Linked DNA regions of Homo sapiens. The protein of the gene in region 3 purifies or fractionates together with the protein of the main gene of each other region. This does not show direct contact. Each region holds a gene or a part of one and is shown on either strand. Other genes may lie near its edges.

What was found.
Region 1: the proteins of FAM219B (region 3) and TRMU purify together in Homo sapiens (affinity purification with mass spectrometry; 3 studies listed by BioGRID and IntAct, with this or other methods). This does not show direct contact.
Region 2: the proteins of FAM219B (region 3) and MTCH2 purify together in Homo sapiens (affinity purification with mass spectrometry; 3 studies listed by BioGRID and IntAct, with this or other methods). This does not show direct contact.
Region 4: the proteins of FAM219B (region 3) and SPAG9 purify together in Homo sapiens (affinity purification with mass spectrometry; 3 studies listed by BioGRID and IntAct, with this or other methods). This does not show direct contact.

What each region holds. Positions count from the first base shown.
Region 1 is NC_000022.11:46,345,713-46,352,736, reverse strand, and holds part of TRMU (mitochondrial tRNA-specific 2-thiouridylase 1), read right to left. Parts: intron 6,316-7,024; coding exon 6,193-6,315; intron 2,447-6,192; coding exon 2,274-2,446; intron 617-2,273; coding exon 563-616; intron 474-562; coding exon 407-473; intron 1-406. UniProt on the Homo sapiens protein: Catalyzes the 2-thiolation of uridine at the wobble position (U34) of mitochondrial tRNA(Lys), tRNA(Glu) and tRNA(Gln).
Region 2 is NC_000011.10:47,625,539-47,632,562, forward strand, and holds part of MTCH2 (mitochondrial carrier homolog 2), read right to left. Parts: intron 6,174-7,024; coding exon 6,116-6,173; intron 5,550-6,115; coding exon 5,498-5,549; intron 5,077-5,497; coding exon 5,017-5,076; intron 3,509-5,016; coding exon 3,415-3,508; intron 1,590-3,414; coding exon 1,542-1,589; intron 204-1,541; coding exon 136-203; intron 1-135. UniProt on the Homo sapiens protein: Protein insertase that mediates insertion of transmembrane proteins into the mitochondrial outer membrane. Catalyzes insertion of proteins with alpha-helical transmembrane regions, such as signal-anchored, tail-anchored and multi-pass membrane proteins.
Region 3 is NC_000015.10:74,903,842-74,911,122, forward strand, and holds the start of FAM219B (protein FAM219B), read right to left. Parts: upstream 3,011-7,281; 5' UTR 2,960-3,010; coding exon 2,746-2,959; intron 2,525-2,745; coding exon 2,437-2,524; intron 1,391-2,436; coding exon 1,313-1,390; intron 1,219-1,312; exon of another isoform or gene 1,141-1,218; intron 872-1,140; coding exon 823-871; intron 1-822.
Region 4 is NC_000017.11:50,984,845-50,991,868, forward strand, and holds part of SPAG9 (C-Jun-amino-terminal kinase-interacting protein 4), read right to left. Parts: intron 5,825-7,024; coding exon 5,606-5,824; intron 5,029-5,605; coding exon 4,833-5,028; intron 2,394-4,832; coding exon 2,268-2,393; intron 935-2,267; coding exon 854-934; intron 147-853; coding exon 79-146; intron 1-78. UniProt on the Homo sapiens protein: The JNK-interacting protein (JIP) group of scaffold proteins selectively mediates JNK signaling by aggregating specific components of the MAPK cascade to form a functional JNK signaling module.

The DNA.
Region 1 (7,024 bases), on a different chromosome or scaffold from region 3:
TCGCTGCATGTGGTCCTTAATCATTCACACCATGCCGGGACGTCCACCTTACTCCCTGAATCAGAGTGGAGTTTTGTGTAGTTTAACATTTTCCTTACACAGGAAGGAAATCATTCTTTTTACAGGGACTTGATACGTAACTCACAGAGTATAGTCCTTCCAAGTCAGAGGCGCGCTTTTCATGAACTCCAGCATCTCAGCTGAGGCCACATCTGGAAGTGCACCCAGCCACCATCAAGGCAACTGTTCCACCCTAGGCCGTGCCCGCCCCCGGCCGCCCCACAGAGCCTTCTACAATTCTCCAGCCAAGTGGAAGGGACGACAGGAACTCTGGTCTAGTCTCCCAGAGCTGAAACGCCACAGCTCTAGGCATTTCAGATGACAAGTGGCAGAGTCTGCACCTCACCTTTATGTGTTCCCAGAACCTTATTGTCTTCTATGGAAATAAAGTGACCAGGTCGAGGCTGCAGATACTGGAAAACAAACATGTCATTACCGACGGAGATCTAGGCCCAGGGCAGACACGCAGCCCCATCTCTTTGTGTCAAAGAGCAGCACGCACCTGAAGAAGGAAATGTTCAAAATTCCTCTTCCCGATGAAACACATGCCCATGCTCTGAAATGAGAAGACGGCAGCCGTGAGAGGAGCAGAAGTGGCGGTGGCCCAAGCTGTACCCAGACGTCCTGAGCGGGCCCTGGGGCCTCCCGGCCTCACCCCACACTTTGCTTCCAGGGTAGGGGCCCGGCTGCCCACCGGCACCCTCGGCCGCCAGTCACAGCCGGCGCACACGATGCCAGAGCCTTAGAGAACGCCTCATTGTCTCGGCCCGCGGGGTCTGACCCTGCGCGGGAGACCCTCACACCAGCTGCCCCGGGGAAGAAAGCAGAACCCGGTCAGGTCCTTCAGGCCACTGTCCTGCGAGGAGTGGGGGAGAGACAGGGACCAGAGAAGGGGCAGGTAGCAGGAAAGCCAGGCCTGAAGCTAAGGCCTTAGGGGAGGGCTCCAGGGGAGTCAGAGGAGAGAGGCGCCTTCCTCAAGCACATCTGCCCTAGCTGGGGAGCCTGGGTGGCGTGCGCTCTCCACCGTGGCCCCATCAGGGGCTGCATCGTTTACTCTGGTTTGTGTCTCTCAAGACTGCCCTTCCATCCCTGCGGCTCCCACCACAGAGCGACACCGGAAACGGAAAACAAGAGGAGAGGAGGACGGGCGGTGGGCGTGCTCTTCAGGGAAGATGGCTCTGATGAAAGGTATGGCCGTTTCCATTACCAGGAAGAGACACGAAGGAGCAACAGCTCCCACCGCACTGGCCCCTGAAGAGGTGAGGCTCATCCCACAGCGCCCTCGCCCTCCATCCCCAAGGCCCTCCCACGGGCTTCATCCTAGTTCCGCCAACACTCCGGGTTCTCTCTTTTTGAGACGAGTTTCGCTGTGTTGCCCAGGCTGTCCTCAAACTCCTGGGTGCGCTCGATCCTCCTGAGGAGCTGGGGCCACAGGCAGGCACCCCCACAGCGGCTCCCTGGCTTCTCCTCGCCTCAAGGCCTTTGCACTGCCGTTCCCTCATCTGGACTTTCCCAGCCCTCTCTGGGACACCGGATCCTCTCCTCCTTCAGGTCTCAGGTTCCATGTGACTTCTTTTGAGGCCGTTTTTGGCATCTCCATTCCCTACTCTCAGACCCCACTGGTGCTTCCCACCCAGGGTCCTACACCTCCCTCCGTAGACATTTTCTAGGTTTACACTGATTGGCCTCCTGCCTGTGTCCCCCACTCGCGGGCGGGCTCCATGGAGGCGAAGATGGAACTGTGTGCGCGTCACCAATTCCTCGCGGCCCAGCAGCACAGCGCCCGAACAGATGGCACCGAACGAGTCTGTGCCGGGCAAGCGGGTGACAGGGCACATGAGTGTGCAGACGGCGGCACAGCACCTGCCCCTCCAGGGGTCTCGGGGCTGCATCACACTGCCTGGCACTCACCTGGCAGGCAGGCCATCCCAAGAGCACCCCACCAGCTGCTAAGGCTGTGGGGAAAGCTGCCTACCACATAGGGGCAGAGGAGAGGAAAAAAGCAAGGAGTCTCGTATAGGCTGCTCCCGATGTCAGCAGAGCCCTGTACCGTGCGCCTCAGCAAACTCCTCCATCTATTGCTCCAAGGCCCGCCTTTGATGTTAGGTCCTGGAGAAGGGGAAGTGGTGCGGGACCCACAGGTCCAGCTGCTCCGTGCCATGCAGTCGGGAAAGGGAAACAGGCACTAATCAAAGGCAACTGCTCACTCGTACCTCTTTCTTCTGAAGCACATGATGAAGTCTATTCTCAGCAGCGATTTTCTTTACAAACTCTTTCGTTAATCCCCCCAGAGGGAAGATGGTTCTCCTCAGGGCATCCTGGGAAACCTGGCTGAGAAAGAAGGTCTGGTCTTTAAAGCTGTCAGCTGCCTGGAGGAGTTTTACCGCTGCCAAGAATAAAGAACAAAAGACGATGCAGGAATAAAAATAATGATACTTCACTTTCAACAATGTCCTTCTGTTCACTTAGACAGACTACCCCTAGCCTGTCAGAGGCAGACATCAACACTCAATAGCAACTACTAGGGAAAAGACCACCACGGGTTAATGTAAGAAAAATTCGCACCTCCAAAAAAAAAAACAAGGATTTTACATGACAAAGAAATTATTCCAGCTCATACTTCAGATTATAATATTTTCAAAGATGAAACATCACATGAAAAAATGTTCTCAAGTGATAAGAAAAAAAAAAAAAAACACCTAAAATAAATTCAGCCAAATCTTGGAAAATGGAGTAAGCTAGTTGCTGGCAGAAAATTCCACTGATATAGTGTCAGCTGTGCCTTCTTCCAACAACCACAGGATGTGTTCGTGCCACAGTGGTTTCAAGGACTCTACACTTTCCAGGTTCACTGCCCGGCGGCCAGCACATGCCTCCAGCAGCGCCCTACCTGTGAAGGCATTAGCTTTCTTGGTAAAAACGTTTTTTTGTTGAGAGTCTCAGCTGACATCTGTTAGGTGACCCTGCAGTTCCTCCGACATTCCCTATGTGATTGTAAAGAACCATTTCTGGCTTTAAGGCAACGGAGCAGAGGTGTGAGTAAACCTGGCTTAGAACCGTCCAGTTCTCCACTCTCGAGTTCAATGATCAATGGCAAAAAACTAAGACGAACGTCAGTTTTCTGGCTTCTTTCAATCTTTCTCATAAACTTCTCCTTTCGAGTTACACTCAGAGCACGCCACATGCCGTGACGGTCAGACAGCACACCTACCCTTCCTGGCTTGGCAGAGCCACGTGTACAGTACACACTCTGCGTAGCTAGTGTTTTCCATCTGCCGATTCCCACGTTAGCCGTGAGAGGGAGAATTCTCCCCACGTTACAGAGGGGAGACTGGAGCCGGCCCAGTTCATCACATATGACTCGCCCAAAGTGATGCAGGTGGAGGCGGTGGGGCTGGAGGCTGCCCAGCCTCCCGAGTCCCCCTCCCTTACTTGGCAGGTACAAACAGCAGAACTGAGTGACAAGTGAGACCAAGTTCAGCCGACCAGTCGCCACGGAAGCAGAGCACTTTCCAGAGTCCACTTTTTTTTTTTTTTTTGAGATGGAGTCTCGCTCTGTCGCCCAGGCTGGAGTGCAGTGGCACATCTCGGCTCACGGCAATCTCCGCCTCCTGGGTTCAAGTGATTCTCCTGTCTCAGCCTCCAGAGTACCTGGGACTACAGGCATGTGCCACCATACTCGGCTAACTTTTTTTTTTGTATTTGTAGTAGAGATGGGGTTTCACCATGTTGGCCAGGCTGGTCTGGAACTCCTGACCTCATGATCCGCCTGCCTTGGCTTCCCAAAGTGCTGTGATTACAGGCATGAGCCACCGCACCTGGCCTCAGAGTCCACTTTCAATCCCAAACTAACTGCAGTCAAACACTGCATGTGTGTAAAAGCCTCAGAAAACTAGGAGCCATTTGCATTTTCTCCTAGTTCTGCGTCATTTTAAAACAAACTAAAAATCTATGATTTTCAAAAAAGCAAGCTGGCGACCCTAACTGAACTGCTATAGAGGAAAAAGCACAGAAAGGAATGAACAACATTTGGAGGAGGCTGCCTGTGCTGGAGCCTCACTGACACGCCGGCTGCCGTGCTGGCTCTGCCAGGCCGGTGGTAGCACGCTGTGTGGGGGAAAATCAGCCCAGTCACAGGCCAGGCCTAGGAGCGCTGGTCTCAGGTGCTGACCGACCCTGAGCCCAGGCCGTCCACTGCCCCTGCAGGTGCTCTACCCAGAGACCCAGGCTGGGCCAGGGCAACTGAAGAAGAATGAAATGGAAACCTTAGTGTGCCTACAAAACCCAGTGAAGGCCAAGACACTGTGCACCATCACAATTCCCACATGCCAAACGCACTCAACAGAACGCATCAGTACTGTCCCAAGTTTCCGAGGGCACGTGGCCTATAATAAAGGTCGATGGCTCTGCAGGGCACACAGTGTTCTAGGAGGTAATGTTCTAGGAGGTAAGCAGGCGCATCTATTCAACATGGAAATTAACCCTCCATCTCCTCAGGCCCCGTAAATGCACAATTACTTGGTGAATTCCACCCTGGAGTTCCCAAGTGGCAGGACTCTGCATTCCAACCCATGTCTTCCTGAAATGGGGGGCTGTCTTATCTGCATTCAAACCCATGTCTTCCTGAAATGGGGGGCTGTCTTACGGGAGTGGGCTGCTCTTCTCTGGGCTCAAGTCAGTACAGTTACCTGATCACCCTGTGGCATAAGGAAGGAAGGCGAGGAGGGAACAGAGGGCGGCAGACGACTGTTGGCACACTCAGGGCTCCCTTGACCAAGCACGGCCCTGCCCCATCACTGCAGCCTTCAGGATGGGCTCAGCAACGCTGAGGAAAGAACTCAGCTGGGGCCTGACCCAGCAGAAGCAGCAGGGGCTGGGGAGTGAGCGGAAGTGCACTGAAATCCAGCTCTGCCACCCGAGGGACCCAGGTCAGATGGCTTCATCCGGGCCTCGGTTTCCTCATCTGTGAAACGGGATGAGAGCATACACCTCATGGACTGCTAAGAGGAGTGATGTGAAACGTGTGAGGCCGGGCTTGGTGGCTCACACCTGTAATCCCAACACTTTGAGAGGCCGAGGTGGGAGGATCGCTTGAGCCCAGGAATTCAAGACCAGCACGGACAACATTAACGAGACCTCATCTCTACAAAAAATGAAAAAGCCGAGCATAGTGGCGCACACCTGTGGTCCCAGCTACTTGGTGGGGCTGAGGTGGGAGGATCACTTGAGCCCAGGAGGTGGAGGCTGCAGCGAGCCAAGATCGGGCCACTGTACTCCAGCCCGGTTGACAGAGTGAGATCCTCTCTCAAAAAAATAAAATTAATAATAATAATTAAAAAAGAAATGTGTGTATGTAAAGCCCTGCCCCAGCCCCAGAGACCCCTATTCCCCAGATGGCGGGACAAGGCTCCCTCCAACATCTGAACTTCCGGACAAAAGAGCAAGGCTGCCCTTCAGGGGTCCCCACTGATGGACGGACGCTCCGTGCGGAAACACGGCTCTGAGCCCCACTTGGTTTTTCACTCAACAATACAGGGAATTCCTCTTTTCTACACACGAATGTACACCAGGACAGGCCAGCAGCTTCCCAGCTCACTGTCTGCCATTGACTTTTTTCTAGAAAGGTGAAACTTGGCTCCCTAACACGCATAAACTAACGTGTAAATACGGCTACAAAGCCTGACTGCTGAGCCCATGCGATCCACAGCAGGTCCTGTGCTCACAGCACGTTGAAAGTCTGCCTGAACCGCACGCCCTTGAGAACTTGTTGCTAAGTACAGGTCCTTGGCTAGACTGACAGCACCCCAATTATCACTGTCAAATATTTACCCAGATATTTTTGGAACATTCAAATCACCACACAGTGTCGAGAGCTGGATTATCAGTATCTGATGTCACTTTCCACCAGCCCTCACCATGGCCGGCAGGGACACTGTTTACTACCCAATCACAGGCCCTCCGGGAAAATGTCCTCTTGGTAACTGCACCTTTTCAAATGTGAATCCCATACAAGCTACTCTGGAGCACAGAGGGAGGGGTGGCAGTGATCCTCAGGCACAACCCACTGTCATTCCTCCAAAGATTTCAATCTGTTCACAAGAATTTGGCTCTGACCTGGGCACATGAACTTACCATTTCTAACTTCAAACCGATTTCTGAAAAGCCCTTCGGGCTTCTTAACGTGCTTCTGCTCAAAGACTTCTTCATCTTCCAGGGAAGTTCTTGCATAGTGACCTGTGGCAATGGCATCTGCCCCTGTGAGGTTTTTAGAACACAAGGATCAGGTTTTAGACTCATACTTGCAGGCCTTGATCAGCATAAACCAAGGCACAAAAGAAGAGTATAGACCCCAAGTCTTAGGCTGAGGGGCTGCACAATCCACCCTGCACCCAAACATAGAGATCCCAGGGAACAGACGCACACATCCAATTTCATCAAACAAGCAGCCTTGAACTCTTAAGCTGATACAACCTTGCTACTTAAAGTGTTATTGCACCTTTAAGAGCCTTTCCAAAGTTAATTTCTGGCTTAAGGAAACAGTCTGAAAGGCACAGAAAGATTTAAACACAAAATATTCCTTTCAGGGTTTGTGATAATACGAAGGGAGGCCAGGCGCGGTGGCTCATGCCTGTAATCCTAGCACTCTGGGAGGCCGAGGCGGGCAGATGATTGCTTGTGCTCAGGAGTTCAAGACCAGCCTGGGCAACATGGTGAAATCCCACCTTTACAAAAAATACAAAAATTAGCCAGGCGTGGTGGGGCACACCTGTAGTCCCAGCCACTTGGGAGGCTGAGGTGGGAGGATTGCTTCAACCTGGGAGGTTGAGGCTGCAGGAAGCCAAGACTGCACCACAGCACTCTAGTCTGGGCAACAGAGCAAGATGCTGTCTCAGGAGGAAAAAAAAAAAAAAAAGAACCAAAATGTTCAACACTGGGAGAATGTGAAGTGAATGACAATGCACTG
Region 2 (7,024 bases), on a different chromosome or scaffold from region 3:
CCTCCCCCCCTTTTTAAAAAAATACCAATCAGAGATTGATACTGATCATTCATCTTTCCTAAATTTCTACAAGGCTGCTCCGCCTGTCAGCATACAGTCAACCACCTACTAGAATAAGAAATACAAAGTGCTTACCCACAGTTGTTGACAGCCATAAGATTGGAGACAAGCACAAAGGGATAGGTCAACATACTCGCAAAAAACTGTAAAATGGAAACAAGGCAGCTGTTATTAGATCATTCCTAGTCTTTATTCTCCTTTCCTTTACCTTAAAGGCCTAGTGCCACTGCGGTGAGACACTCTAACACTTGTCTCGCTTCATCGGTACCCTGGAAAGACAACAGTTACAGTTTTGAGCCTGGAGATGCTTCTTCCTCTTAGCACACCACTGCATCCAACATTTTAACAAAAGGCCAGAAGAATTCTCTGATCCTGAGTAGCTGGGACTATAGGCGCACGCCACCATACCCAACTACTTTTTTTTTTTTTGAGATGGAGTTTCCCTCTTGTTGCCCACGCTGGAGTGTAATGGTGTGATATTGGCTCACTGCAACCTCCGCCTCCTGGGTTCAAGCGATTCTCCTGCAACCTCCGCCTCCTGGGGTTCAAGCGATTCTCCTGCCTCAGCCTCCCAAGTAGCTGGGATTACGGGCATGCACCACCATGCCCAGCTAATTTTGTAGTTTTAGTAGAGATGAGATTTCTCCAAATTGGCCAAGGTGGTGTCGAACTCCCGACCTCAGCCTCCCAAAGTGCTGGGATTACAGGAGTGAGCCACCGCGCCTGCCCCAGCTTTTTTTTTTTTTTTTCACTTTTGTAGAAATGGGGTCTTGCTCAGTTGCCCAGGCTGGTCTTGAACTCTTGGCCTCAAGTGATCCTCCTTCCTTGGCCTCCCGAAGTGCTGGGTTTACAGGTGTGAGCCACCATGTCTGGCCTGAACAATATTATTTCGGAGGAAAGGCACGCCCCTTATGAAAGCTAAGCAGTACCAAACCATGCAGGATGTGAGGCAGGGGTTCTGCCTTACTCTCTTTATTTTCACATGTGAGTCTGTGGTTCCTTCGAAAACTGAGTTATTCTCTCTTTTTTTTTGAGATGGAGTCTCACTCTGTCGCCCAGGCCGAAGTGCAGTGGCGTGATCTCAGCTCACTGCAGCCTCCATCTCCCAGGTTCCAGTGATTCTCCTGCCTCAGCCTCCCGAGTAGCTGGGATTACAGGCATGCACCACCACGCTCGGCTAATGTTAGTATTTTTAGTAGAGACGGGGATTCATCATGTTGGCCAGGCTGGTCTCGAACTCCTGACCTCAGGTGATCCGCCCACCTCACCTTCCCAAAGTGCTAGGATTACAGGCATGAGCCATGGCGCCTGGCCGAAAACTGAGTTATTCTTACCTTTGACAAATATAACAAATTTCAGGGAGATGTCCCAGTGAGACATCTGGTTATCTTAAAGCAGTGATGACACAAGCCAGATTTAAAAGGAAAACAAAACAAAACACAACTATTCCTAGAAGGTTAAAAGGATTTTAAAAAACTCACTCCTGTGACAGCTTGAGAATAACTCTTCATTTCATTCATGGTAGAAACCTAAAATAGGAAAAGAGCCTTAAATTAATTACCTACAACACTACAACACATCAATATATTCTTTTTTCCTTTTCTTTTCTTTTCTTTTTTTCTTTCAGACAGTGCCTCACTCTGTCACCCAGGCTGAAGTGCAGTGACCTCCTGAAGCACACATCACCACGCCCAGCTAATTTCAAAATATTTTTTAAGAAATGGTGTCTTTTTTTTTTTGAGATAAGGGTCTCCCTATGTTTGCCCAGGCTGGTCTCAAACTCCTGGGCTCAAGAGATCCTCCCACCTTGACCTCTCAAAGTGCTGAGATTATAGGCATAAGCCACTATGCCCAGCTAAGAGACGGTGTCTTGCTATGTTGCCTAGGCTGGTTTCAAACTCCTGGCTTCAGGCAAACCTCCCACCTAAGCCTCCTGAGTCGCTGGAATCATAGGCTGGAGCTACTGTGCCTTGCTCTCCATGTCAATATAGTCTATCTCTAAATTATCAGTTTGACAGCTTGAAAATTAATTTTTTTTTTTTTTTTGAGACAGGATCTCATCTCTCTTGTTGCCCAGGCTGGAGGTGCAGTGAGCTGTGATCTCACAACCTTGACCTCCTGGGCTCAAGTGACCCTCCCACTTCAGCCTCCCAAAGTGTTGGGATTACAGCATGAGCCACCACACCTGTCTAAAACTAATTTTGAGGACAAAACCATAAAACACTGATTATTAGAATAATAAGGCAGTGGTCAAAATGATCAACCTGATTCAATATTAACAGACAAATTCATATTATACTAAAATGCTTTAGGGACGAATGTAAAAGGATTTCAAATACTAAAGAAAATGAGATTGATAACCTTTTCACACATCCTAGAAATACAGTCCCTGGAAAACCACATTTATAGTATATCTAAGGGACAATTCACTACCTTTGTTTTACACAGCTAGCTTTCTACCAGATGCGTTGAAGAAAATCCCTCTCTGTACTCAAGAGGTTTACAACATGGATTTAGTCATATACCCTGTGATGTGTTCAATTTATCATCATGCTATGGAGCTGCCGACATACAAGAGGCCCCACAACTGCTGAGATAAGAAAGACAACTTCTAGATAAGACTGATTCTCAAAAGGCTGAGGTTTCTAGAAAGCCCAATACAGGCACCCTCTTAAGTCCAGATTAGATGAAAAGCCCCCGATACACCATAAAGATGTCCTGCTTTCCCAGGTTCTCTCAAGTTAAGTATCAGTAAAGAAGTGATCTCTTTAAAGCCCTGAAGTAACACAGGGCTAAGTCTCTTGGGTATACTCTGTCACATCTTACGGACTTTTAACGTGTATCGTTCTACAGTAAACAGTATCGTTCTACAGTGAACAGTATGCTCATTTCATTAGCATTTGAAAATTTGACTGATAATTTTTAGCTATATAATTGTTCAGTCTGGCATGTAGCAAACTGTCATCTTGTTTATTTATTTATTATTTATTTTTTGAAATGGAGTCTCCTTCTGTCACCCAGGCTGGAATGCAGTGGCGCGATCTTGGCTCACTGCAACCTCCGCCTCCTGGGTTCAAGCAATTCCCCTGCCTCAGCCTCCCAAGTAGCTGGGACTATAGGCACGCACCACCACGCCCAGCTAATTTTTTCTGTATTTTTAGTAGAGACGAGGTTTCACCATGTTGGCCAGGCTGGTCTCGAACTCTTGATCTCAGGTGATCCGCCCACATTGGCCTCCCAAAGTGCTGGGATTACAGGTGTGAGCCACCTCGCCCGGCCCATCTTACTTTAAAAGCTAATCTAGCTGCCAGATTAAAGCCAAGGTGAGCACATCTCACGAAGGTCACAACCTACCCCACTGTCCAGTGCATAGGTATTGACGAGGTAGGCCAGTGAGTTACACAGCCACAAAGAAAGGATGTCACCTAGAAGGCGAGGAACAAGACCCCTACATGAAGAAACAATAAAAATAAGAACCAAAAAATGTGATCAGTAACATGACAGGCTCTTCAGTACAAATGTTTGTCAAATAATTAGAGGTCACAAAACATTCTAGGGAAGTAAAAAAGGAATCAAACACCAGAATCCAGCCCGCATACCTAGTTCATTCTCGTTAACACAGCTGTACTTGAAGCTGATCTCCAGTGACTTTTGTTCCTATGTTTAAAATGCAGGTCGGCTATACCCTCAGTGGCTCACCTTACTATTCATAACTGTAAGCAGGGAGGCAAAAGATTTGCGAGGTGCTTTGCAGAAGAGACTTAAATATTGTTTTGCTTTGACTAGCTTAAAAAAATGATTTTGCTAAGCTATCTGATATTCATATTTGGCAGAGCAAAAGACGAGAAAAATTACAAAGCAAGAATGGTCCCAAGTACAGATACAGATGAGAGGCATCAAAAACCACATTTCTAGGGTCTGGGTGACCTAGGTGAGGCAGCATGGAATAGTGGGAAGAGCATTTCCCCACGGATTGAAGACCAGCTTCAAATGCCAGCTCCAGCACTCAGCAGCGATGTGACAGGCAGCAGATGAAACTCTCAGAGCATCAATGTTTTTTAATCTCTAAAGTGATACTAATTATAGCTGTCCTGCCTATCTCACAGGGTATTTATGATATTCAAAATCCGTATGGGGAGATACTCTGAAAATTAAAAAAAAAAAAACAAAAAACACCATTTCGGTAATGATGCAAAATTTTTCCTCATAGAAGAATGAGGGTAGTAGTCTAAGTTCTTCCAAAGTAAATTCAAGCCTTGCAAAAACTTACTCTTTTACGGTAAGGAAAATACAAGTTAAGATGATTTCCCCATTTTTCAACATTTAATTTTTCTCATTTTATTATCTATATAGAATTGGGAGTTTACTACAAGGGTAGAAACTTGGAATTAAGTCCTTTGTTAAAAAAAGAAATTCCTTATTTATTTATTAATTATTATTATTTTTTTGAGACGGAGTCTCACTCTGTCACCCGGGCTGGAGTACAGTGGTGCAATCTCAGCTCACTGCAACTTCCACCTCCCGGGTTCATGCAATTCTCCTGCCTCAGCCTCCCGAGTAGCTGGGATTACAGGCACACACCACCACACCTAGAGGTGGGGTTTTACCATGTTGGCCAGGCTGGTCTTGAACTCCTGACCTCAGGTGATCCAACCGCCTTGGCCTCTCAAAGTGCTGGGATTACAGGCGTGAGCCACCACGCCCGGCCTCAAATGTTTTAAGTATCTAGAAGTAAAGGTTTGGGATCTTTACAAGATAATTCTAGTCATATGGGGCCTAAATATGCCTTTCTGCAGAGAAAAAAGAAAAAAAAATAAGGGGCCTAAATAGAATGTAACGTGAGGTAAGCCCAGGGAGTACGTTTTCCCCAAGGATTAAACAAAGACTCACTATTCTTACTTTCAGAAAACGTTTCCCACTCATGCAAAAATTACACACTAATCAACATTTACTCACGCGAAAAATCCTAGAATGCCCTCTTCCCGATAGATGGTTATTATGGAATCACAAAGTCCACTACGTACACAAGAAGAAAAGGTAAAATATATTAAGATTCTTTTGGAGCTATAAACAAAATAATTTCAATTATCACATTGGACAAGGTCAAATCCACGACCTCCTTCCCTCACACTTTTCTAGCACTCTCTCACTCTGCAAAGATAGCTAAATTTGGAGATAGAAGTGAAAATATTAACTACCTAGGGGTATAGTCATATGGAGTCAGGGGCTCTGCAACTTACTCTGAAATCCTACGTAGGCTACTAAACCTGCCTGGGTATATTTTCTCCCATTTTATTGTTTTTTGTGCAGATCAAATGACATCAGATACGAATTTGTTCTACAAATTGTAAGGGTATCATAAAAATACAAAGTAGTATTATTCTAGTACTTTGGCTTCAAAAGATCTCCTTGAGTATGTGAAAACAAAAATACTTACCAGTACTTGGATTCTCTGCCAATGAACTGTACCATAGATCTCAGAGTGATCACTGTGGAATATAGAGAAAAGATGTTTACAACTATGTTAAGGCCAGGTGCGGTGGCTCACACCTGTAATCCCAGCACTTTGAGAGGCCGAGGTGGGCGGATCACCTGAGGTCAGGAGTTCAAGACTAGCCTGACCAATATGATGAAGCCCCATCTCTACTAAAAATACAAAAATTATCCAGGCGTGGTGGCATGCACCTGTAATCCCAGCTCCTTAGGAGGCTGAGACAGGAGTACTGCTTGAACCCGGAAGGCTGAGGTTGCAGTGAGCCAAGATTGTGCCATTGCACTCCAGCCTGGGCAACAAGAGTGAAACTCCGTCTCAAAAACAAAAAACAAACAAACAAAAAAAAACTATGTTAAGATAGATTTTGATAGCCCTGGGAAAAAAAAAGATTTTCCACCTAAAGACATTTTGCTATCTGGATAAATTGGATAAAAGCCAAAACAAGCAAGCAAACAAAAACATGCAGGCAAGGCATTTTAGTCAACTCCCACGTCAACCTATCTAAGTGGTCAGGAGAGATCAGGTTATAAAAGAAAGGTCAGTTGTCAACTGCAAACATACCATGGAAGGGATGTGTGATGAGGGTAGCAGCAGAACGAGCGATCATCTCTCGAGTTGTCTAGAAACAATCAACACACACTTCTGAAATCTAAACAAATGACACTCAAATGCCTGTGAGAAGGAATGTGGGTGGATATCGTGGTATAGGATAAGAAAGTGAATGACACAGCCCTCCTGCCCTGGCTGGAGTCAAGAAGAGTTTGAATGGGATGTGAAAGATCTCATTCATTGTCATTTTATCATACTTTTCACTCATGGATCTCAATGTTCTATTATAGTTACTTCTCAAAATTTCTCTGCAAAGCAGGCTTCTGTTGTTTTCTCAATTTTACAGGTAAGAGAAAAAAATAAAGAAACAGGAAAGGTCACCAACAAAGTCATTAAGCTGAAATAAAAAATATGAGGCCTTTATTGAGATTATTAAGTTGCTCTCTTATTGGTAAGTGATTTTGGAGAGTCTGACATCATTCTAGATAAATGACAGGCTCCATTTAGTCTCTACTCACATTTTTGGGAGAAGAGAACAATTTTGTTTTGTGACTACAACCCAGTAACTGTGCAGTATCTTAGAGCTGCTGTGTTTTTCCTAGTTTATCTTTCTACTCTAGGGCTCTGTAAGGAAGTAATAAAGAAAATTAAATTATAATCTTTGCATTTAGGTTCTGGGATTGCAAATGTAAGCAGGTCTACCATTGGCTTTTGCATTTTTTTTTTTTTTTTAGGACAGTCTTGCTCTGTCACCCACGCTGGAGTGCAGTGGCGCGAACTCGGTTCACTGCAAGCTCCGCCTCCCGGGTTCACGCCATTCTCCTGCCTCAGCCTCCCAAGTAGCTGGGACTACAGGCACCCGCCATCATGCCCGGCTAATTTTTTTTCTTTGTATTTTTTAGTAGAGACGGTTTCACCGTG
Region 3 (7,281 bases):
CTTGCCAGGATTTTACATCCCTGTTTTTCTATCTGGGACAGTCACTCTAGAAAAATGTCTACATGGCTATCCCAGGAGTGTTTTAGCCTGAGTTTTCATAGATGGAACAACTGAAGAAACAGAAGTTGTTTGGTCTGGAAGAAAGCAAGCTTGGTGAAAGATGGGCAGGGGAGAGACGGAAATGCTGATCTCAGAGAAACTAGAGTTGCTGTGTGACACTGGAAAGCAGGTCAAGGACCAATGGACCCATTCAGATTAATAAGGAAGATTTCTCTAACAGCTACTCAAAGAAAAAATTCTGTGTGTGTTGAGGGAAGGGTGGGTAGCAAGGCTCCTTGGAGGTGGTCAGTACCCAATTACAAAAAGCATTCAAGTAAGCACAGACTAGCAAACACTTAGCTGGGATCTATCAAAAGGGTTCCTTTTGTAAGCTGTGGCCTAGAAGACTTTTATTTTAGAGTCTTATTTTAGAGACAGGGTCTTGCTATATTGTCCAGGCTGGTCTTGGAACTCCTGGGCTCAAGCAATCCTCCTGCCTCAGCCTCCCTAGTAGCTGGGACTACAGGCATGTACCACCATGCCCAGCTTACATGACTTCTGAGATCATTTCTAGCCCTGAGTCTAAATGGTCTCCTCGATTCTCAACAGCCCTCCTTGGTCACCTATACCTCCACCGGGGGAAGAGGGCAGAGTGGAAGATCGTAGAACAGACCAGAAGTCTGGCACAGTGCTGTGCTCACAGCGGGCACCAAACAAGCATTTGGCAGTGGTGGTAATGCTGCCTGCAGCCTGGCCCTGCACAGAAAGGTGTTCTGGACTTGCCTCTGCAGATGAATACCCGGAGGAGTATCTGGATCCCAGCTCCCCATCACTAGGAGAAGAGGAAAACAGTCAGTTCCGGGAGGTACCTGTGGTGCACAGCTGTAAATCATCAGGCGGAGAGCATGCAAGGGCATCTGGAAGACTTTTGAAGCAAAGGCCACACACAACAGAACTCAAGTCCGAACAGGCCTTGAATAATACTGGTTCCCTCAATTGGTTCTGGCAGGGACAGGGTCACTCTCACTAACAATGCAAACATAACAGGGCAGGATGATCCCCCGGACATTGGTGCTCCGAATTCTAGAGCAGCACGATTACCTATGAGTCTTCTAACCAAGCCATCCTGGGAAGGGATATTGTTCAGAAGAGAACGGCCCTGGAATGTACATGAAGGGCCTTGGAGGAGACAGGGAACAAGCAAAGGCATCAGGCGATCTTCAGTCCCAGCCAAGTTGCTTCCCAAGGGGGTATTTCCAAGGGGAGCACTCACCTGTCAGAGTCGAGGGACACCAGGTTTTCATCTGGACTCTGGCTAAGAGCAGTATAGCCCTTGTTAAACTTCACTGACCTGAGGGGAGACGGGGGAGAAGAGACCAAACATAGATGAAAGCATAGGCATTTCACAGGGATAGGCAGAGTCCTCGCCCTGAAGGAGAAAGAATTGACTGCACTACTGACTTGCCTTCTCCCTGGTCACAGCCACCACTGCCTGCAGCTCCATGTACCTGGCTACAGTGCCTCAGAATGTGTATGTTCTCATTCTTTTTTTCTTTTTTTGGAGACAGAGTCTGGCCCTGTCACCCAGGCTGCAGTGCAGTGGCGCGATCTCGGCTCACTGCAATCTCCGCCTACCATGCTCAAGTGATTTTCCTGCCTCAGCCTCTTGAGTAGCTGGGACTACAGGCGTGCCCAGCTAATTTTGTATTTTTAATAGAGACGGGCTTTCACCATGTTGGCCAGGCTGGTCTCGAACTCCTGACTTCAAGTGATCCACCCGCCTCGGCTTCCCAAAGTGCTGGAATTACAGTCGTGAGCCACCACGCCCGGCCTGTATTCTACTCCTCCCATAGGTCTTGGAAAAAAGCACACCTCCCCTTGCCTGATCTAGGAAAAGCACCCTCTCCCCACTTATTTAATCAGAGGACACAAAAACTGCAAGTCTTTGGGTAAAAGGTTAGGGTTAACCTTCACTTCTCCGAGTTTCAACCCTCATCTGTAAAAGGAGGCACTGAATAAGGTTCTATGCAGCTCCGAGTTTACTATTCTGTTAAAAACAAACAAACAAAAACAGGTCTAGCCATTCCCACACTGCTCTTCGTCCTCATTGCTGGGGACTCCAGCCACCATTCTCCTCCCTAACAGAGGAGGAGAATGATAGTGAATGAGCCTGTGCACTCACAGAACTCCCTTATTCCGAAGCCCTTTATCTGATCCTATCACATCCTTAAAGGAAAAGAGAGATTGTTCCTCTTCCCATTTTAAAGATAGTGAACCTGACAGGTTGCATCAGGGGAATCGCTAGCTCGGCCTTAAACCAGAGCACCCTGCCTCCGTCCTGGGGATTAAAGCCTTCTCTAAAGCTGCTGGCACAGAGGAGGTGGCGCCTGCTGAGACCTTTTCCCTGAAGAGTCTGGGCGGTTCGGCGAGGCCCCCAGCATGCCTTTTCTCCGCAGAACGGCCTTGGCCAGGTCCCGGTGCTTCTCTGGAAGTTAAAGGACCCGGGTCAGCCGGGTCTTCCCCACTCCGCCGCGTCTCCCGAAGGCTGGGAGGCCGCTCTTTCCGAACGGATTTTGAGGGGCGAGAGCAGGCTGCAGCTAACCCCTTCCCTCCGGGGCCGAGGCCCAGCGGAGCTCCGGAACCCGCCCTGGGGACGCGGCCGCCCGCCCAGGGAGAAACCTCCCCCGACCATCGGGCCACACTCACGCAGCTTGGCTTGAATGGAGGGTGCGCGCGTCACCATGTATGGCCCCCGCTTTTCCACGGCCGCGGGGGTGCGCTCCCCCAGACGGAGGGCTCTATTACCGATCTGCCCGGAGGGTGGCCCCGCAGCTCCCGGCGCGCGGTCCCGAGCCCCGCTGGGCCGGGGTCCCGGGGTAGACAACCGCAACGCGCGCCCGCTGGGCTCCGCGGTCGCCATGGCCGGGCCCCGCCCTGCCGGATGGTGCAACCCCGCCCGTGGCGAAAGAGTGACCGGCCGAGGGAGAGGCGGGCTCTTTTAACAAGATGGCGGTGCGCAGGCGCAGGTAGTCCCCTTTCGGAGCTCTCCGGTTCGGTAGTCTGAGGACTTGGCCGAAATGTTCCGCCCTTCTTTTCGGGGGGACCGGGCAGTTCCGTTCTCGGTTTTGGGGTAGGCGGCTTGAGCCTGGTGATGGTTAGGCTTAGTTCTGTCTCTAGTGGAAATTAAATACTGATACTGTCGTGGGGCTGCGCGTGTGCGTCGGTCGGGTGCCCACGGTTTGAGTCCTGGCGCGCCGCACTCTGTGCTTCTCGCAGTGTCTCCTTGGGGGTCTCCCCACATGTGGGGCTGCCAGAGAGCAGACTTGGGTTGAAGAGTCATATGAGGACAAGCGTTATCAGCGACCTTTTCTAGCAAAAGAAACAGGCCCCAGAAGTTAAAGAACCTTGTGAAGGTGACACATCTAGAGGCAGTGCTTGCGCTGATCCATCTGACGCCAAACCCCACCTTCTTTCCAACACCAATTGGTGCCTGTGACATTGGACAGGACCTGACCCTCTCTAGGCCTCAGTTTCCACATTTAAAAATAGAGCCAATGTCACTACTCATTGTACAGTGAGGCAAATAGGCGTTGAAAAGGAGGGTGAAAGTGCACTCTGAGTCTGTGTGTGGTAGGCTATGTGTCAGGGCTCTTGACTTCTCTAGCCCCCAAGGGATGTGCTTGTGACTGGCTGGAAAGAAACTCCAGATCCTTGTAGAACTCCCAAATCTCATGAGGCTGTCCCTTGACTAACTTACTGGCTTCAATAGGGTAGGTCAACAGTGTGCAACCTCCGAGCTCCCAGGGCCACGCAGACCGTTGGGTGGCACTATGCCTTGGGCAAGAGAGGTGAAAAGGAAGAATTTAGGGCTGAAGTTTTCAAAAATCAAAAGCACAAAGGAATCCTTACCATTTTGGTAGATTCCCCCCACTCCCCATGATGTTAGACTGTTTTTGCCTCCAGAAACAGCAGGTTCATATAGCTCAACTTAGTATTTAATGGTTATAACCTCCCAATGAAGCCAATAGTTATTCTTGTTAAACAAATGAAGCTTAGACTTGGTCAAGTTTACCAGTTAAGTGATAAACCTGGAATTTGTACCCAGTTGCCTGTGGACTCCAAAGAAGTAGTTTTCTGGCCGGGCACAGTGGCTCACATCTGTAATCCCAGCACTTTGGGAGGCTGAGGCAGGCGGATCACCCGAGGTAGGGAGTTCAAGACCAGCTTGGCCAACATGGTGAAACCCCATCTCTACTGAAAATACAAAATTAGCCGGGCGTGGTGGCGGGTGCCTATAATCCTAGCTATTCAGGGGCTGAGGCAGGAGAATCGCTTGAACCCAGGAGGCGGAGGTTGCAGTGAGCCGAGATCAGGCCACTGCACTCCAGCCTAGGCAACAGAGCAAGACGCTGTCTCAAAAACAACCAACCAACCACCCCCCAGCCAAAAAAAAAAAAAAAAAAAACCAACAAAAAAACAACGAAGTGGTTTTCTCCTGGTTATGCTGATGTGGACATCACCAAGGGCCAAAGAAAATGTGATTTAAACCAGCAGTCTCCAGCCTTTTTGGCACTAGGGGTTGGTTTTGTGGAAGACAGTTTTTCCACGGGGTGGAAATGCGGGGGCTGGTTTTGGGATGATTCAAGCACATTTATTGTGCACTTTATTATTACATTACAATATATAATGAAATAATTATACAACTCAACTTAGAATCAGTAGGAGCCCCAAGCTTGTTTTCCTGCAACTAGACGGTCCCATCTGGGTGTGATGGGAGACAATGACAGATCATCAGGCATTAGATTCTCATAAGGAGCCCACAACCTAGATCCCTTGCATGTGTGGTTCACAATAGGGTTCATGCTGCTATATGACTCTAATGCCACGGCTTATCTGACAGGAGGCGGACGGAGCTCAGGTGGTAATGTGAGCAATGGGGAGCCACTGTAAATACAGATGAAGCTTTGCTCACTCATGGACCAGTATCCATCCATGGCCTGGGGCTTGGGAACCCCGACCTAAACCCACTTAATGTCACAAGATCACTAGGAACTTGTAGCAAAAGTGTGACAGCCTTCATGCACACTCCTCCCAATCTTCCATCAATAATGCTGTTAACTGCTGACTGATTGAACATAGACCCTGAAGCCAAATTATTTGCTCTGTTACCTACTGGCAAATTATTAAACCTCTTTATGTCTCAGTTTCTTTAGCTAAGTGGAGATAAGAAAACCCATCTAATGGAAGTGGAATTGTGAAGTTCAGTTGTAAAGTGTTTAGAATGACACCTGGCAAATAGTAAGTGTTCAAGAAATATATGCTATTATTTACACAACCCTTATACAGCATTACAAGGATTTAGTGTTTATTCTCTCATTTGACTTTACACTCCCCAAGGGCAGACCTTATTCACTTTTTAGCATAAGGTTATAGTAATAAGTATTTGTTGAATTAATATCCTATTTCCCCTCTTTTAGTTAACTAGTATCATAGAACTTTGGGGCTGGAAGAGATCTTTTTTTTTTTTTTTTTTTTTGAGACAGAGTCTTGCTCTGTCGCCCAGGCTGGAGTGCAGTGGCGCGATCTTGGCTCACTGCATGCCCTACCTCCCAGGTTCACACCGTTCTCCTGCTTCAGCCTCCTGAGTAGCTGGGACTACATGCGCCCGCCACCACACCTGGCTAATTTTTTTTTGTATTTTTAGTAGAGACGGGGTCTCACCATATTAGCCAGGATGGTCTCAATCTCCTGACCTCGTGATCCGCCCTCCTCGGCCTCCCAAAGTGCTGGGATTACAGGTGTGAGCCACCGCACCCGGCCTGGAAGAGCTCTTAGAGATTATATAAAGTCATTATTAATGAAGAAATTGTGGTCTTGTGATAGTTGTACTCAATGATCCTGGCCTGGATGTGGGAAGTTCCCTTTTCCACTTAAGAAATTATGTTCACTAGGGCTCACGCCTGTCATCCCAGCACTTTGAGAGGCCAAGACAAGTGGATCGCTTGAGGCCAGGAGTTCAAGAGCAGCCTGGGCAACATGGCAAAGCCCCGTCTCCACAAAAAAAATAGAAAAAGTAGCTGGGCATGGTGGTGTGTGCCTGTGGTCTCAGCTACTTGGGAGTCTGAGGTGGTAGGATCACCTGAGCCCAGGCAGTTGAGGCTGACTGACAGGAGGTGGAGCTGCAGTGAGCTGCGATCGCACCACTGCACTCCAGCTTAGATGACAATGAGACCCTGTCTCAAAAAATAAATAACTTACAATTCAAAAAAAAAAAATTATGTTCACTAGGAACCTAAGACAAATAAATACCCACCCCACCACCAAAAATACCCCCAACCAACTCTAGGTTGCAAGGGGATGAGTCTCCAGAGCAAGAATTGCCACAGCAGAAAGGGCACAAAGCCCCTCTTCCTTGCTCCTACTACTCAGACCTTAACCCAGTGCTTGTGCTGCCTGCCTTGCTGGGCCTGGGGCTTCTCAATTTAGCATAGCTTTATTCATCTCCTACTGTGTCACAGGTGCTATGCTGGGTCCTGCAAACCTAATGATGACAAATAAGGTATCTCCCAGTTCCCAGTCTTATTTCTTTGTTATTGGGGGGTAGTGAATCCTCGGGGAGAGATTATTGGCTGTTAGGAGCAAGGACTACTACCCTGGCTTTTGGAACCCTCATTGGGCAGTTACTCTTTATCCCTGGCTCTAAATCTAAGTTATTCCCTAAACTTTCTTGGTCCTGGGACAGATACATCTCCATCATCAGTTGAGAATTCTGGTTCTGCTGTTGACTGGAGCTGAATTCCTTCATACAGGCAAGTATCTGGGGTTAAACATTAAAAGGGATGGAGGACAGAGATTTTTTTTTTTTATCCTGCTACTTCCCTTTCAAGCTCTCTTCCATCTCAGAAGCCACTGTCTCACCAGGTTGTGGCCTCTAGCCCAAGGAACTTCTCTCATTATTGGTAGAGTACAGATAACTAGATAGGACCTATGAATCTGCAGGTCTTTCTGGGTTCCCAGGTTACCAGACCCACCATTGTCCTCACAGTTATATGCAAAGGTATGGCCACAGCTGTGGCGGGCTGCTGTGGCTTGTCTCCACCAAACCCCATGTTTAAATTTGATCCCCAGTGTTGGAGGTGGGGCCTAATAGGAGGTATCTGGGTCATGGGGGTGGATCCCTCACGAATACATTAATGCTCTCTCTGAAGGTGGTAAGTTCTTATTCTATAAGTTCCTGAGAGA
Region 4 (7,024 bases), on a different chromosome or scaffold from region 3:
AAACATAAACCAATCTACTTAAAAATGCTTTGCAAAGCAACAAATTAGTGTCCATGTTATACACACATCACCACTCACCCACTCCTCTGTGAAAGATTGCAAGGGTGCCGTCAGCCAGGGCTACTAACACGATTCCCTTCACGTGTCTGCAAACAGGAAAGGGGAGTTCAGAACTCTCCATTCAGGAATACAGAAGGGACCACATGCTACTGAACTAGTTCAAGGCCTCACAAAGGGCCAATCTGTGATGAGTTAAGGAGCTGACACCTGAATATAAATGAACACACCACTTTCTTCACTGTGGATGTCCTGCTATGAAAAAATGTCAGCTGAACTAAATAAACAGTATGAATGGTATCTCAGTTATTTCACTTTCTGGCCCAAGGTTCTCCTCTCATCACAGACAATCAACACAAACTCTAAAGACCAGAGACATGCACCTTGAGTGGAACCAACAGAGTCAGCCCTGTAGGCTCAGAGATAAACTGTCTGATTTTTTTACAGTGAACACATAGAAAAGAACTAGTAATCAATGCCCCAATCAACATATTTACAAGCCATAAAGAATATTCTAAAATAAACATAACTTAATAGGTATTGGTTATTTCCTGCAGTGCTAAATAAATCGCAGTATGGTGAGGACTCAATCAAGCAAGTTATCCTTTCTACTTCGTTTTCTATTATACAGTTTCATTCTCACTTAACTTCTCTAGTTCCATAAAAAGGGTTAAAAAAACAAACAAATTGGATACTAATTTAGTCGTGAAACATGTATTAGCTTTCAAAGTCTTAAAATCTAGTTTATACCAAAATGCATAGTTTTAACAAGAAGAATTTCCAAAATAAAACTTACACAATACTGAGAATCGAATCTTTAAGTTTAATGGAATGGAGACATTTCCTCCACTGGGCTACAGATGAATGGACATACAAACTGTAAGAACAAAGTCAACACTGGTAAGGCATAGAGAACATCAAGACATTGCATATATCTAACAATGATCGCGAAGTTCATTCAGAAGGAAAGAAGAGTAACATACAAATTTTAGGAAAAGGTGCTGCTGCTTTTGTGCAATGGTCAGAAAAGAAAAATGAGAGTGAGGGTAGGCCTAAGGTAAAGAAATAGGCTGCTGAGCAAAGAAAAACATATGAAGACTGAAAAGCAAGAACTAGTGCAATGCACAGTCAGGTTCACACACTTAGTCCTTGGGCAAAACTCTTTTTTTGAATTGCCTTACCTCTCTACTACACTGATCTATAACTTTTGGATGACAGAGTGGCCCACATAGGGAGTGGCAAACTATGGCCTACAGGCCAGATCCAGTCTGCCACCTGTTTTAATCCAGCCTGCAAGCTAAGAATACTTTTTACATTTTTAAAAGTGTGTGTGGGGGGGAAATCAAGGGTATTTTACGACAGGGGAGATTTATATGAAATTCAAACTACAATGCCCATAATGCTCTACTGGAAGAGAGTTACACTAAGTTTGCCAACTCTTCACTTTATAGTATTGGACTCATATGAAAAAGACATACTACAGGTTGAGTAACCCTTATTTGAAATGCTTGGGATTTCTGACTTTTTCAGATTTTAGAATGTTTACATCATACATAACAGTTGAGTATTCCTAATTCAAAAATCCAAAATGCTCCAATGAGCATTACCTGCCAGCATCATAACAGTGGTCAAAGAGTTTTAAATTTTGGATTAGAGATGCTCAACAGTAATCTTGCTTAACCTTTGTAAATGCACAATTTTGTAAAACTCTCCACACAACCGGAAAGTGAACAAACCATATAATATTAGTCATCATCATCTGACTTTGCAGATTGTGATTTGTTTTACCTATCTTAGTAAAAAATTCACTAAAAGTTGGGATTGGGCCTTCCTGCAGCCAAAATGTTGGTTTAATCCCTGTTTTCCTGCCCACATTCTAGCCTACATAAATTAAATATTCTCTGTCTTTGTGCTGTTCAGGATCTTCTATTTCTGGAGCACCTCGATTTTAAAATTTTACATACCTCTTCTTCCAAGAATATTATAGAAAGGGAACATTCTGTGACAAAGAAACATATGGCTTACTATTCAGAACCAGTGCAAGTCCAGTTTATGTGGTAGTTGCAACATAACATCAAATTGTGTGTATATATAAAATTCTTTGCATTAATCCACACTTTTTGTATTTGTTTACCATATTTTACTTATCTTCTGATTTCAAAAGCAAAAGTAAAACAACATATTCTAATGTTAAAAGCATTGACACCTACCAGCCATTTTGAGCTCCAAGCCACATAGTTGGTAAAAGACTACTCATTTTCTGGGCTTCTTCTCTCACCAAGTCTTGTTCATTTGGCAGTACTGATATTTGATCTTTATATGCATCTGAGTCATTGCTGGAAAGGGAGGGCAAAAGGAAAGAAATCTGAGTATACTTAACTATCGTTATAGTTTTCAGGGACTGAATCCTTCTATATTTAAGTTTGTTCATTTGTTTATTATTTATTTATTTTTTAGAGATAGGGTATCACTCTGTCACCCAGGCTGGAGTACAGTGGCACAATCAGGGCTCACTGCAGCCTTGACCTCTCAGGCTCAAGTGATCTTTCCACTTCAGCCTCCTGAATAACAGGGACTAGAGGCACACACACTATCACACCTGGCTTCAACTTTTAGTCAAAAAAAAAAAAAGAAACCACCAAAATTCCAGAAAAGCCAAAGTCAAAAGCTTACATCACATATTTCAACAATTGTACCAGAAATAACATTAACAAACTAGGAAGCCCAAGGAGCAGAAAAGATAATAAGACATGGTAATGAAATACAGCAGTTAATATTCAGACAATTACTATGGCTGTCTCTTATTTTGGGTTTTGTCATAGTTTCTTCTCAAGTGAGAGAGAAGGGAGGGATACACACATACAAATAGTAGGGAGAAATATAAAGAATGACCTAAAATAAATTAATAAACTGAAATATGTTTAATATTCTATCACAAAACCTTTCCTTTGAATTGTCAGGGCATATTTAGTAAAAGATATATAACCAGGCTATCAAATTCAAACATGACTTATTCTTAAATTAATAATTCAGGCCAGGTGCGGTGGCTCACGCCTATAATCCCAGCACTTTGGGAGGGTGAGGTGGGTGGATTTCTTGAGGCCAGGAGTTCAAGACCAGCCTAGCCAACATGATAAAACCCCATCTCTACTAAAAATACAAAAATTAGCTGGGTGTGGCAGCACATGCCTTCAATCCCAGCTACCTGGGAGGCTGAGGCAGGAGAATCGCTTGAACCTGGAAGGCGGAGGTTGCAGTGAGCTGAGATTGCACTGCTGCACTCCAGCCTGGGTGACAGGGTGAGATTCCATCTCCAAAAAAAAAAAAGAATTAAATATTAACCCATTTATGCCGGAGGTTGCAAATTTTTTTTGTAAAAAATCAGACCTTAGCGATGACCTTGAGCAGTAGGATATGAATAACTCCCACAAGCTTAGCATTCCAATAATGGACCACTAGGCATAAATGGGTTATTAATTAATCTTTCTTACTTTATACACTAAGAATATTAAACTTTAAAAAGGATCTAGTTTAAAGAGACTCTCATCTAGAGGGGATCTAGAAAAGGCAGGAAAGAAAATAAAATAATTCACTAAATGGGCCTAGATTAACCAACCCTTTAACGGAGGAGCCTAAAACAAACAGTTTTCTTTGGTTTGTTTGTTTTCTGAGACAGAGTCTTGTTCTGTTTCCCAGGCGGCAGTGCAGTGGTGATATCATGGCCCACTGTAGCCTCCAGCTCCCAGGGCTCAAGCAATCCTCCCACCTCAGCCTCCTGAGTAGCTGGGACCATAGGTGCACGCTACCACGCCCAGCGAATCATTAAGTTTTTTGTAGAGATGAGGGTCTCACTATGTTGCTCAGGTTGGTCTTGAACTCCTGGACTCAAGCAATCCTCCTGCTCAGACTCCCAAAGTGCTGGGATTATAGGCATGAGCCACTGGAACTATCTGAGTTGTTTTTTAATAAAATATTTGCATGAAAACTAAATTCAAAAAGGTCATCCACACCCATGTGGGAAACTTGTACAATGGCAGATTTAAACAATGGCCAATTTTGCTGATAACTGGAGTGAAAATTAGAGTAGGGGTGGGATTAAAATGACAAAGAATTACTTATAGAATGGAAGACAGTAAGTACAAAAAAAAAGAAAAAAAAACAGATCAGAGGAGAAAATGAACAGAAAGATTTTGACTAATATATAGTCACACACCTGGTAAAACCATTTTGGAAAATGATGGACAGAATATATGGTGGTGGTTCCACAAGATTATACTACTATATTTCTACAGTACCTTGTGCATGTTTACATACACAAATACTTACCGTTATGTTCCAATTATCTACAGTATTCAGTACAGTAACATGCTGTACAGGTTTCTAGCCTAGGAGCAATGGGCTATACCATATGGCCTAGGTGTGTGATAAGCCATACCATCTAGATTTGTGTAAATGCACTCTATGATGTTCACACAATGATGAAATCACCTAATGACACATTTCTCAGAACATATCCCCATTGTTGACTGATGCATGATTATACTTTTATAGATAAGATTTTTTTTTTAAATTGGAAGGTGTACAGAAGAAATGGGGGGGAATATCCAGCGAGAATGATGGAGCGGGAATACATGAAATTATCACAAGAATAGGTATCTTTTAATCCACCACAGTGACACTAATTAGTGGAAATCTTTTGACTGTTTGAGATTATTTTGGTTCCTTTTATTTGTGCACTTCACCCAGTTGCCTAAGTTGATGACCCATTATTATACCTCGACTGATACACTGGGGAGAGGTCTTCTGGGATCTGAACTCCCAAAGGATCTGTAAAGACATGCTCTGTGTAGACGCCAGTTTGGGAGATGTCCACTGTGTCTTCAGCTGACCCCGCATTCCCTTCTGTAGCTTCAGTTGCTTCTTCTGCTGTTGGAACATTTTCATCAACCTCACTATTTTCTGCTTCCATTTCTACAAAGTAAATAAAACACTATTCCAAGTCTGGGCTTTTCTCCTCCAATTATTTCCCCACACAAACCCCTGTTATAGAATTCCATTCCATCTACCCACTCCTTCACACTGTACCATGAAATTAAGAATTCTTCATTCCATTTAACAGTCATTACAGCATTTTTTTTTTTTTTGAGACAGAGTCTTGCTCTGTTGCCCAGGCTGGAGTGCGGCGGCGTGATCTTGGCTCACTGCAAGCTCCACCTCCCAGGTTCACGCCATTCTCCTGCCTCAGCCTCCCGAGTAGCTGGGACTACAGGCACCCGCCACCACGCCCGGTTAATTTTTTGTACTTTTTAGTACAGACAGGGTTTCACTGTGTTAGCCAGGATGGTCTTGATCTCCTGACCTCGTGATCCACCCGCCTTGGCCTCCCAGAGTGCTGGGATTACAGGCGTGAGCCACCACGCCCGGCCTACAGTATCTTCTTTCAAGTTCTTTCAACCTTGTTACTTAAGATCTAAATTAAGTCCATAATGAGGCATCTGAGTGTAGCCTTAGACTCTATACAGATGGCAGGTAAAGAGAATGGATATACCTGGTGGTTTATCCATCACTGGAGAAGCACCATTTGTACTAGGGGAAGTGGCAGCTCCCGTCACACCTTCTGCAGAACAACCAACCACTGTGATGCCTCCTAACAGGCTGTCTGTCTCTGCTGAGCTGTTGCTTGTCATACTTCCACATAAAGATGCTTTGTCTACCTGACCAGATTCTGAAAGATCTTCTCCTGCAGGGTAGTCTGTTTCTCGTGCACCTGAAAAATAAATCTTCTTGTAACAGCAAAGTAAACTTCTATAAATAACATTTTTTTTACTAAAACAATTACAGGTTTGAAATGAGAGTTATGCAGGTGAGATGTACAGGTAGTTGAATACAGGTAGCATTAAATTTACATAAACAAATCTTCACAATATGGGAAGGTAACTTAAAAAATTAAGAAAATACTTCTATTAACACAAGTGCAAATAAACATAAAAATGTCAGAAAATAAACTTTTTTTTTTTTTTTTTTGAGACAGAGTCTTACTCTGTCGCCCAGGCTGGAGTACAGTGGCATGATTCAGCTCACTGCAACCTCCGCCTCCTTGGCTTAAGTGATTCTCCTGCCTCAGCCTCCTGAGTAGCTGGGACTACCGGTGTGAGCCACCACGCCTGGCTAATTTTTGTATTTTTGGTAGAGACAGGGTTTCGGTATGTTGGTCAGGCTGGTCTTGAACTCCTGGCCTCAAGGGATCCACCAACCTCAGACAAGTCCTAGGATTACAGGTGCGAGCCACCACGCCTAGCCAGCTTCTGTTCTTAGTGAGCTCCTCAGCAGCCACAGGTTAAAAACAATCTATTATATCTGACAACATCAGCCAAAAAAAAATTCTTTTAAATCATCAAGACTACTGCTACTACTTGAAGTATAAGCTTCTATCCATTACTGTTAAAAATTAAATGCCCCAAGTATATAGGTTGATTAAGATATTAGTAAAACATTAAAAACTAAGCATTTATAATATAAAAATATTTACAATATAAAAATAAATCTCATTTTTTAATTTAGAAAATTGTTTTATTTATATCACACTAAAAACTTTTATTGCAGTAAAAATAATATATATATAAACAAAATTTGCCACTTTAACCATTTAAAAGTGTACAATTCAGTGGCACTAATATTTACAATATTGGCATTAATATTTATAACATTGTGTAGCCATCACCATTATTTTTTTTTTTTGGCGACAGAGTTTCACTCTTGTTGCCCAGGCTGGTGTGCAATGGTACAGTCTCGGCTCACTGCAACCTCTGCCTCCCAGGTTCAAGCAATTCTCCTGCCTCAGCCTCCCAAGTAGCTGCGATTACAAGCGCCTGCCACTGCACCTGGCTAATTTTTGTATTTTTAGTAGAAACGGGGTTTTACCATGTTGGCCAGGCTGGTCTCGAACTCCTGACCTCAGGTGATCCGC